Regions from separate parts of the Homo sapiens genome. Here all the other regions are linked to region 1. The links come from fine-mapping of genetic effects on gene expression. A gene starts in region 1. Each other region holds a variant in brackets. All regions are shown on one strand. Distances are between the middles of the regions. Region 1 holds the start of MARCKS (myristoylated alanine rich protein kinase C substrate). Region 2 has its middle 37 kb from the start of LINC02518. Region 3 has its middle 13 kb from the start of LINC02518.

Evidence for each region.
Region 2: its variant is fine-mapped to the expression of MARCKS in whole blood (TOPMed, PIP 0.91).
Region 3: its variant is fine-mapped to the expression of MARCKS in whole blood (INTERVAL, PIP 0.98).

The regions. Positions count from the first base shown.
Region 1 is chr6:113,855,669-113,858,436 of GRCh38, reverse strand. MARCKS (myristoylated alanine rich protein kinase C substrate) reads right to left here and starts at 1,092. Exons shown (of 2, transcript NM_002356.7): 1 at 590-1,092. The coding sequence starts at 691. RefSeq lists enhancers at 1,011-1,060, 848-1,391, 1,392-1,937, 2,208-2,257, 2,278-2,337.
Region 2 is chr6:113,468,811-113,471,578 of GRCh38, reverse strand. No RefSeq gene overlaps it. Among named protein-coding and RNA genes, the nearest start is that of LINC02518, 37 kb to the right of the region's middle. The variant T/A (reference allele first, on the strand shown) is at 1,390.
Region 3 is chr6:113,444,637-113,447,404 of GRCh38, reverse strand. No RefSeq gene overlaps it. Among named protein-coding and RNA genes, the nearest start is that of LINC02518, 13 kb to the right of the region's middle. The variant G/TG (reference allele first, on the strand shown) is at 1,418.

The sequences.
Region 1 (2,768 bases):
CAGTGGGAAAGCCTCATCAAAAGGTACCGAAGCCCTCTGTCTGGCCCCAGCCAGCCACCTTTCCAAGAACCCAGGGCACGCCGCCGCGGCATACAATAAGACAGCCTTTCCCTCCTCGCCTTTCTCCACCACCATCCCCATTGCGCCCCCCTTTCCCGACTCCCCCCCCCGCCACACACAATCACACCACCAGTTCAGAAATCTCGAAGACAATCCAGCTTCGACAACAAACCCGAGAGACACCCAAACACCATTGTGCCCCCAAACACAAATGAAACCTGGCTGGGGGCGGGGGAAGGAGGGCACCTAGCTAGTCACGTTCTGCCAATCTCCAAACCACGCCATTTTAGACGATTTATCACTCCTTTCCTCCCGTCTACTCAAGAATTCTCCAGGATTCTAAGGAACCACTCCTTTGGTGTGGGGGGACCCCGGCTATGAAAAATCCACAATTTAGGCTATCCATTTCCATTCAACTTTCAGACTAGAATCCAGCCACACTCCTCTCCACGAATGAGCCTTGGGAGCCACCAGGAGGGAAGGAGAGAAAGACACGAAATAAATGACCACAACCACAGGTAGAATTTACCTGTCCGTTCGCTTTGGAAGGCGACGAGGCCACAGCCGCCTCCCCAGGCCTCTCCGCGGCGGCTTCTCCCTTCGCTGCGGTCTTGGAGAACTGGGCACCCATGCTGGCTTCTTCAACAAAGAAACTCAACAGATCCAAGAGGGGAAACAAAGAGCCTCGGGTTGGTGTAACGACGGGGCGAGCAGCAGCAGCAGCGGCGGCGGCAACAGCGGCAGCGGCACACACACCGGAGGGAGGGGGGTGGGGGTGGTGGAGAGGACAGAACAGAACCGATTAAATACACTCCGGATAAAAAAATTTTAGTCGAAGAGATCAAAAAGCAGCAGCACAGGAGGGAGGGAAAAAGGGTGGAAAAGTCGAGCACAAAAAAAGGAGCCCAAGTGTAGTTCGAAAAAAAAAGAAGTAATAAAAAAATCCCAGATTTGTAGCCGCACTGTAGACAAGAGGAAAATGGAGAAATCTCCCTGGTTGCTAATAAGATGCGGGGTCCAACGCCCAAGTGCACAGATGAATGGGCTCGCGGGCGCTGACGCGGCCCCCGCGCGCGTCGGCCAATCCGCGCGCCGCACACAAAGCAGGGGGCGGGGTCTGCGCGCCTGGCGAACAATGGAGCCGCGCTTTGCAAACGGTTTGAAAATCAGCCTCAGACCGAGAATTAATGTCCTCCAAATAAATAAATCAATTAAAAAATACATGGCACTCGTCTCTCTCTGCTTGAAAATAATAATGCATTTCTTGATTGGCTTGCTTTGTTTGGAATTAATTAACACGGGAGGGGGGTACTTGTGCATCGGGGCGGAGAAAGCGTTAACTTGACTCGCATTGACTCTCGTCGGTCTATATCCGTGTGTCTCTCTCTCTCCACTCGCTCCCCTCCCCCATCTTTCCGTGTGTTTATGTGTATGTGTGTGTATGCGAGTGTTAAAGACAATGGTTGCGATTTGTGTGTTTGCAGCATGTTTTCTTTCTTTTTTCCATATTGGTTTTACAGATAATGCTCAGGGTTTGTTTTTTGAACTGCTGCAATGGTTAAATCGTCCCAAATTGAAAGGTATTTAAACCACGAAGATCGAATTTCATCAAGCGAGATCGCAAGTTAGAATTAGGTCTGTAGGCCAGATGTGGAAAATGCAAAAGCGGCAAACAGCGAAGCCACACTCCCTTCCCTCTCCCACATTGGCATGAAATAAAATATTTTGAGATTGGCCTTGGGCGCTCAACAAATTCCCCCTTCTCTGGCTATTCCCAATTAGTGATTTTTTTCCCCCACAATTCAAAGTGAGAGCCATTTACAGAAGATCGAAACTCTTCGCGTTTTATCACTGTTTTAAATGACATAATTTTCCTCTATGGTGAAATGAGACACAGCCTCGAGTAGACGAATCCATATTTACAGTTGGGATGTTATTCGCGTCAATATGGATCGTTTTCAGCCTACTGCCAGAATCGAATGGACTCTTTTTGAACGTGTGTGTGAGTGCGCACGCAGGCGAATGTGCTCCTGAAAGGAAGGGAGGCAGCAGCAACGATGACATTCTAAACCGGATTGCAGTTCTAAGGAGAAATGTTCTGTATGTTGAGAGATAGCAAGATCCCTGAGCTCTCCAAGTCTAACTTGGGTTAGAGGAAAACCTTCTATAATGGTACACAGGATACCTCCATCTGTCACTGCACTCCTTGCCACCGAAGTACCAGACGCTTTTTGTGCGTGAGAGACAAGGCACTGACTTAAAGTATGAGGGGTGAGGGGAACCAAGGAAACAGCTTAATAAGCATTTTCTTCCCAAAGTTTTCACTCGTGGCAAAATCAGACCACCTTTTCTCGTTTACATTTGGTGATCTTGCAAGGAATAATCTTTCGCTTATGAAGGTGAGAAGCAGTCGAGGGAATGGTTCATTTCTCCTGGTGCTGGCTCTGAATTCTCAAACAGTTTTATTTTCTGCTCATTGTAGGGAAATAGGTCACACTCTGAGTGAAAAAGACGGTTGGTTCAAGCCAGTAACTCTTTGTTCAAGCGTTGCTTTAAAAATCACCAAGCTGAACATTGTTACGTGAAGCTTCGTCTTCTCACTGTCCAGTTCCTTCAGATGCATTATTCGACCATGGTCATATTCCCCAGAGCTGATGTAAAGACGTTTCCGTAGAAATGCATCTTGCCAGCAAACGTGTTATTACCCT
Region 2 (2,768 bases), 390 kb after region 1:
ACAGCAGATAATGGCTGCAGGTGTTTGGCTCCACTCACCCATTCTAAACTCTCCTCTTTACCAAGGAGCTGGAAGCTTGCAAACTACTATGCCCAGATTCTTTTGCCAACTGGTTTCCAGATAGGATCTGCCAATGGAAAAACGTGATGGAACAATATAAATTCAAGAAAGGGAGAAGCCATTTGTCTTGCATCTGGTGGTACCTCCAGTTGTGCTGGTGGTAGGAATAGCAACTACCTGAGCATCTAGAGGATTGGAAACCACCAAGTGATATGGAGAGAAGTGCAAATGGAATGTCTTTGGACCAGAAGGGGGGTTGTGCATGGGGAGAAGGTAGGAATTCAAGTTTGGAAGTGTTAAGTTTGAGATGACTGTTGGATATCCAAGTAGGGATGTCAGTAAGTACTGGATAGTCTAGAATTCAGGAGTGATGTTAGGCTGCAGGTATACCTTTGAAGTTAGTGATGTCATTTAAAGCCATGAGAGTGAGTGAAATCATTGAAGAAAAAAGAACTCCACCACTCAAATCCTGAGGACCCCTGACATTCGAAACTCAGGGAGAAAAGGAACCAGCAAAAGAGCTTGAAAAGAGTGAACAATGAGGTAAGAAGTAGACCATCAAACAAGAGTCAGTGATTAACCTTGTCAAATCAGTGGATGAGTCAAATATGATAAGGACTGAGAATTGACAGCTGTATTTAGCAATGGAGGTTATGGGTAGCCTTGACAAAAGCAATTTTTATACAGAGTGAAAGAGAATGTGAGAGTAAAAATCCTGGCAATAGTTTATTAATTCACTAATTTATTAAAAAATACTCAGCATCTGCTTTGTGCCAAGCACTGGGGATTTGAGGTGCATAAAAAAGACATTACCCCTGTCCTCTTGTAGCTTAGGATATTTTACTATAATAATAGGCTGTGATTTCATACAGGGATAAACTTCAAAACACTTATGTGTGTGCGTGCACATACACATGCACACACTTGAAAAAATAAAGCAAGAAAGAAATACATAGGCTAAAGAAAGTTTGTTGTGAGGGCTGTAGGATACACTAGAGAAGGCACTGCCTCTATGAGCTAGAACTTGTTAAATGCTGTTTATATTTATCTTAAGAGTTGAAGCATCTGGCATCTTTAAAAAGGGAATATTGAGTCTCTTCTTGTTTTTATTTGGAGAAGTAGTTGACCAGGTGCCATAATTTGATTTTAATCTGATTTTATCTCTGTAGTGCTTAGATAGTTTAATTGCTGGTTTGATCAGAATATGAATTGTCAGAAAAATAACACGTTGCATTCTTGTAGGCAGAATTGTTTCCATGGTTCTCTCTCCTGAATACAAGGGGTTACTCATGGCTCTCCAGGGACTAGGACATGCAAAACAGTATTTTG[T/A]TCATCTAAATATTGTTTGATAGAAATCATGTAAAGCAATATCTGAAACCCTAATATTTTCTTGGATAAGTTTTGGCATGAAGTTCTGTGCAAATTAAAACAATTGAAATTGAAACAAAATGTAAGTGGTAGATACTCTAATGTGTTTCATTTTAATTTGGTCCCTAAATGTAAGAAATAAGAGCCCTCATAAAGTACAGAAAAACTTTATTCTCATATGTATTTTGAGACAGATGCCCAGGCTGGAGTGCAGTGGCATGATCTCGGCTCACTGCAACCTCCGCCTCCTGGTTCAAGCTATTCTCCTACTTCAGCCTTCTGAGTAGCTGGGATTACAGTTGTGCACCACCATGCCTGGCTAATTTTTGTATTTTTTCTAGAGATTGGGTTTTGCTATGTTGTCCAGGGTGGTCTCAAACTCCTGACCTCAAGTGATCCACCTGCCTCATCTTCCCAAAGTGCTGGGATTACATGTGTGAGCCACCATGCCTGGCCTCACAGATATATTTATTTTTATTTACTTATTTACATTTTACTTTTTTAAAAAAATTATACTTTAAGTTCTAGGGTACATATGCACAATATGCAGGTTTGTTACATATGTATACATGTGCCATGTTGGTGTGCTGCACCCATTAACTCCATTTACATTAGGTATATCTCCTAATGCTATCCCTCCCTGCTCCCCCAACCCCACAACAGGCCCCAGTGTGTGATGTTCCCCTTCCTGCGTCCAAGTGTTCTCATTATTCAATTCCCACCTATGAGTGACAACATGCAGTGTTTGGTTTTCTGTCCTTGTGATAGTTTGCTGAGAATGATGGTTTCCAGCTTTATCCATGTCCCTGCAAAGGACATGAACTCATCCTTTTTTATGGCTGCATAGTATTCCATGGTGTATATGTGTCACATTTTCTTAATCCAGTCTATCACTGATGGACATTTGGGTTGGTTCCAAGTCTTTGCTATTGTGAACAGTGCTGCAATAAACATGCGTGTGCATGTGTCTTTATAGTAGCATGATTTATAATCCTTTGGGTATATACCCAGCAATAGGATGGCTAGGTCAAATGGTACTTCTAGTTCTAGATCTTTGAGGAATCGTCACACTGTCTTCCACAATGGTTGAACTAGTTTACCATCCAACCAACAGTGTAAAAGTGTTCCTATTTCTCCACATCCTCTCCAGTACCTGTTGTTTGCTGACTTTTTAATGATCACCATTCTAACTGTTGTGAGATGGTATCTCATTGTGGTTTTGATTTGCATTTCTCTGATGGCCAGTGATGATGAGCATTTTTTCATGTGTCTGTTGGCTACATAAATGTCTTCTTTTGAGAAGTGTCTGTTCATATCTTTCGCCCACTTTTTGATGGGGC
Region 3 (2,768 bases), 410 kb after region 1:
CCCACCACCAATCTAGCAGTCTTATATACAACATAAATTCTCATGCACTATAATTATTGTGGTCAATGATGCTAAACCAAGCACATAGTTTTTCCTCAAACACGTTCATAGGCAAGGAAAAAGTTGCCTTCATGACTCACTTTTAGAGACGAAGCAACAAGTTTGGGTCATGTGAGAGCTGACTCACTCTTTTTCTTCCCTTCCACATTTAAGATGGGTTCATAATAGGGGAAACTAAGTTAACTCTCCATTACCTTGATTGGGACTACATAAAGAGAAACCAAAAATTCGGCCAGAATTTTAAAATTCTGGGGATGTCTTTAAAATCAGTAGACTTCTTGCTTATCAAGTAGTTTATGTCCAGATACCTTCCAATGTAATGTAGTTTTTTGTTATTAACAGCTTTATGGAAGTATAATTTATGTATCTTAAAGTCTACCTATTATAAGTATACAATTCAATAATTTGTAATAAATTTATACAGCAGAGCTATCATCATCACATTCCAGTTTTAGGACATCTCCATTACCTCTAAAGTTTTCTTGTACTCATTTATAGTTAATCACTGCTTCCACATTCACCTCTAGGCTAATACTGATTTCTCTTCTTTTTATAAATTTGCTTTTTCTGAACATTTTATATAAATGAATTACAGAGTAATTATGCTTTTTGCACCTGACTTCTTCTTTGAGGTTAATTTACACTGTAGCATGTATGGTAGTGCTATCATTTTTATTGCTGAATAACCTTCCATTGTATGGATATGGCACTTAAAAAAGTCCATTTCCCAATTGATGGACATTTGAATTATTTCCAGTTTTTGGCTATTATGAATAATGCTGCTGTGAATATTTACCTACATGTCTCTGTGACAGGTTTTTATTTTTCTTACACATATTCCTAGGTATTGCTATGTCATATAGTAAGTGTGCATTTAAATTTTTAAAGTTTTATTTATTTTATAATTAATTTTAATTTGTATTTTAAGTTCCAGGGTACATGTTCAGGATATGCAGGTTCATTACATAGGTAGATGTGTGTAATGGCGTTTTGCTGTACCTGTCAAGACATCATCTAGGTATTAAGCCCAGCATGCATTAGCTATTTCCTGATACTTTCCCTCCCCTGACCCTACCCCCCAACAGGCCCCAATGTGTGTTGTCCCCCTCCCTGTGTCCATGTGTTCTCATTGTTCTGCTCCAGCTTATATGTGAGAACATGTGGTGTTTAGTTTTTTGTTCCTGCATTAATTTGCTGAGGATAACAGCTTCCAGCTCCATCCATGTCCCTGGAAAGGACATGATCTCGATCCTTTTTATGGCTGCATAGTATTCCATGGTGTATATGTACCACATTTTCTTTTTTTCTTTTCTTTTCTTTTCTTTTCTTTTTTTTCTTTTTCTTTTTTTTTTTTTTT[G/TG]AGATGGAGTCTTACTCTGTCATCCAGGCTGGAGTGCAATGGCATGATCTTGGCTCACTGCAACCTCCACCTCCCAGGTTCAAGTGATTCTCCTACCTCAGCCCCCTGAGTAGCTGGGATTACAGGCATGTGCTACTGCACCTGGCTAATTTTTGTATTTTTAGTAGAGACGGGGTTTCACCATGTTGGCCAGGCTGGCCTTGAACTCCTGACCTCAGGTGATCTACCCATCTTGGCCTCTCAAAGTGTTGGGATTACAGGTATGAGCCACTGCACCCAGCCTGTACCACATTTTCTTTATCCAGTCTACAGTTGATAGGCATTTGGGTTGATTCCATTTCTTTGCTATTGTGAATAGTGCTGCACTGAGCAAACACGTGCATGTATCTTTGTAATAGAATGATTTATACTCCTTTAGGTATATGCTCAGTAATGGGATGTGGATCAAATAGTATTTCTGGTTCTAGATCTTTGAGGAATTGCCACATCATCTTCCACAATGGTTGAACTAATTTATATTCATACCAACAGTGTAAAAGCATTCCTATTTCCCCGCAACCTCGCCAGCATCTGTTATTTTTTGACTTTTTTATAATTGACTTTTTGACTGGCATGAGATGGTATCTCATTGTGGTTTTGATATGCATTTCTCTAATTAGCGATGTTGAGCATTTTTTCATGTTTCTTGGCTGCATGAATGTCTTCTTTTGAGCAATATCTGTTTATGTCCTTTGCCCACTTTTTAATGGCTTTTTTTTTTTGTAAATTTCTTTAAGTTCCTTGTAGATTCTGGATATTGGACCTTTGTCAGATGAACATTCCATGCTCATGGATAAGAAGAATTAATATCGTGAAAATAGCCATACTGCCGAAAGTAATTTATAAATTCAATGCTATTCCCATTAAACGACCATTGACATTCTTCACAGATTTAGAAGAAACTATTTTAAAATTCATATGGTACCAAAAAAGAACTCTTATAGCCAAGACAATCCTAAGCAAAAAGTAAGAAGCTGAAGGCATAACACTGCCAGACTTCAAACTACAACAAGGCTACAATAACCGAAACAGCATGGTACTGGCACAAAAACAGACATATAGACCAATAAAACAGAATAGAGAACTCAGAAATAAGACTGCACATCTACAACCATCTGATTTTCAACCCCTTCCTTACACCTTATATAAAAATTAACTCAAGATGGATTAAAGACTTAAATACAAAACCCAAAACTATAAAAACCCTAGAAGAAGGCTGGGCGCGGTTGCTCTCACCTGTAATGCCAGCACTTTGGGAGGCCAAGGTGGGCCGATCAGCTGAGGTCAGGAGTTTGAGACCACCCTGGCCAAC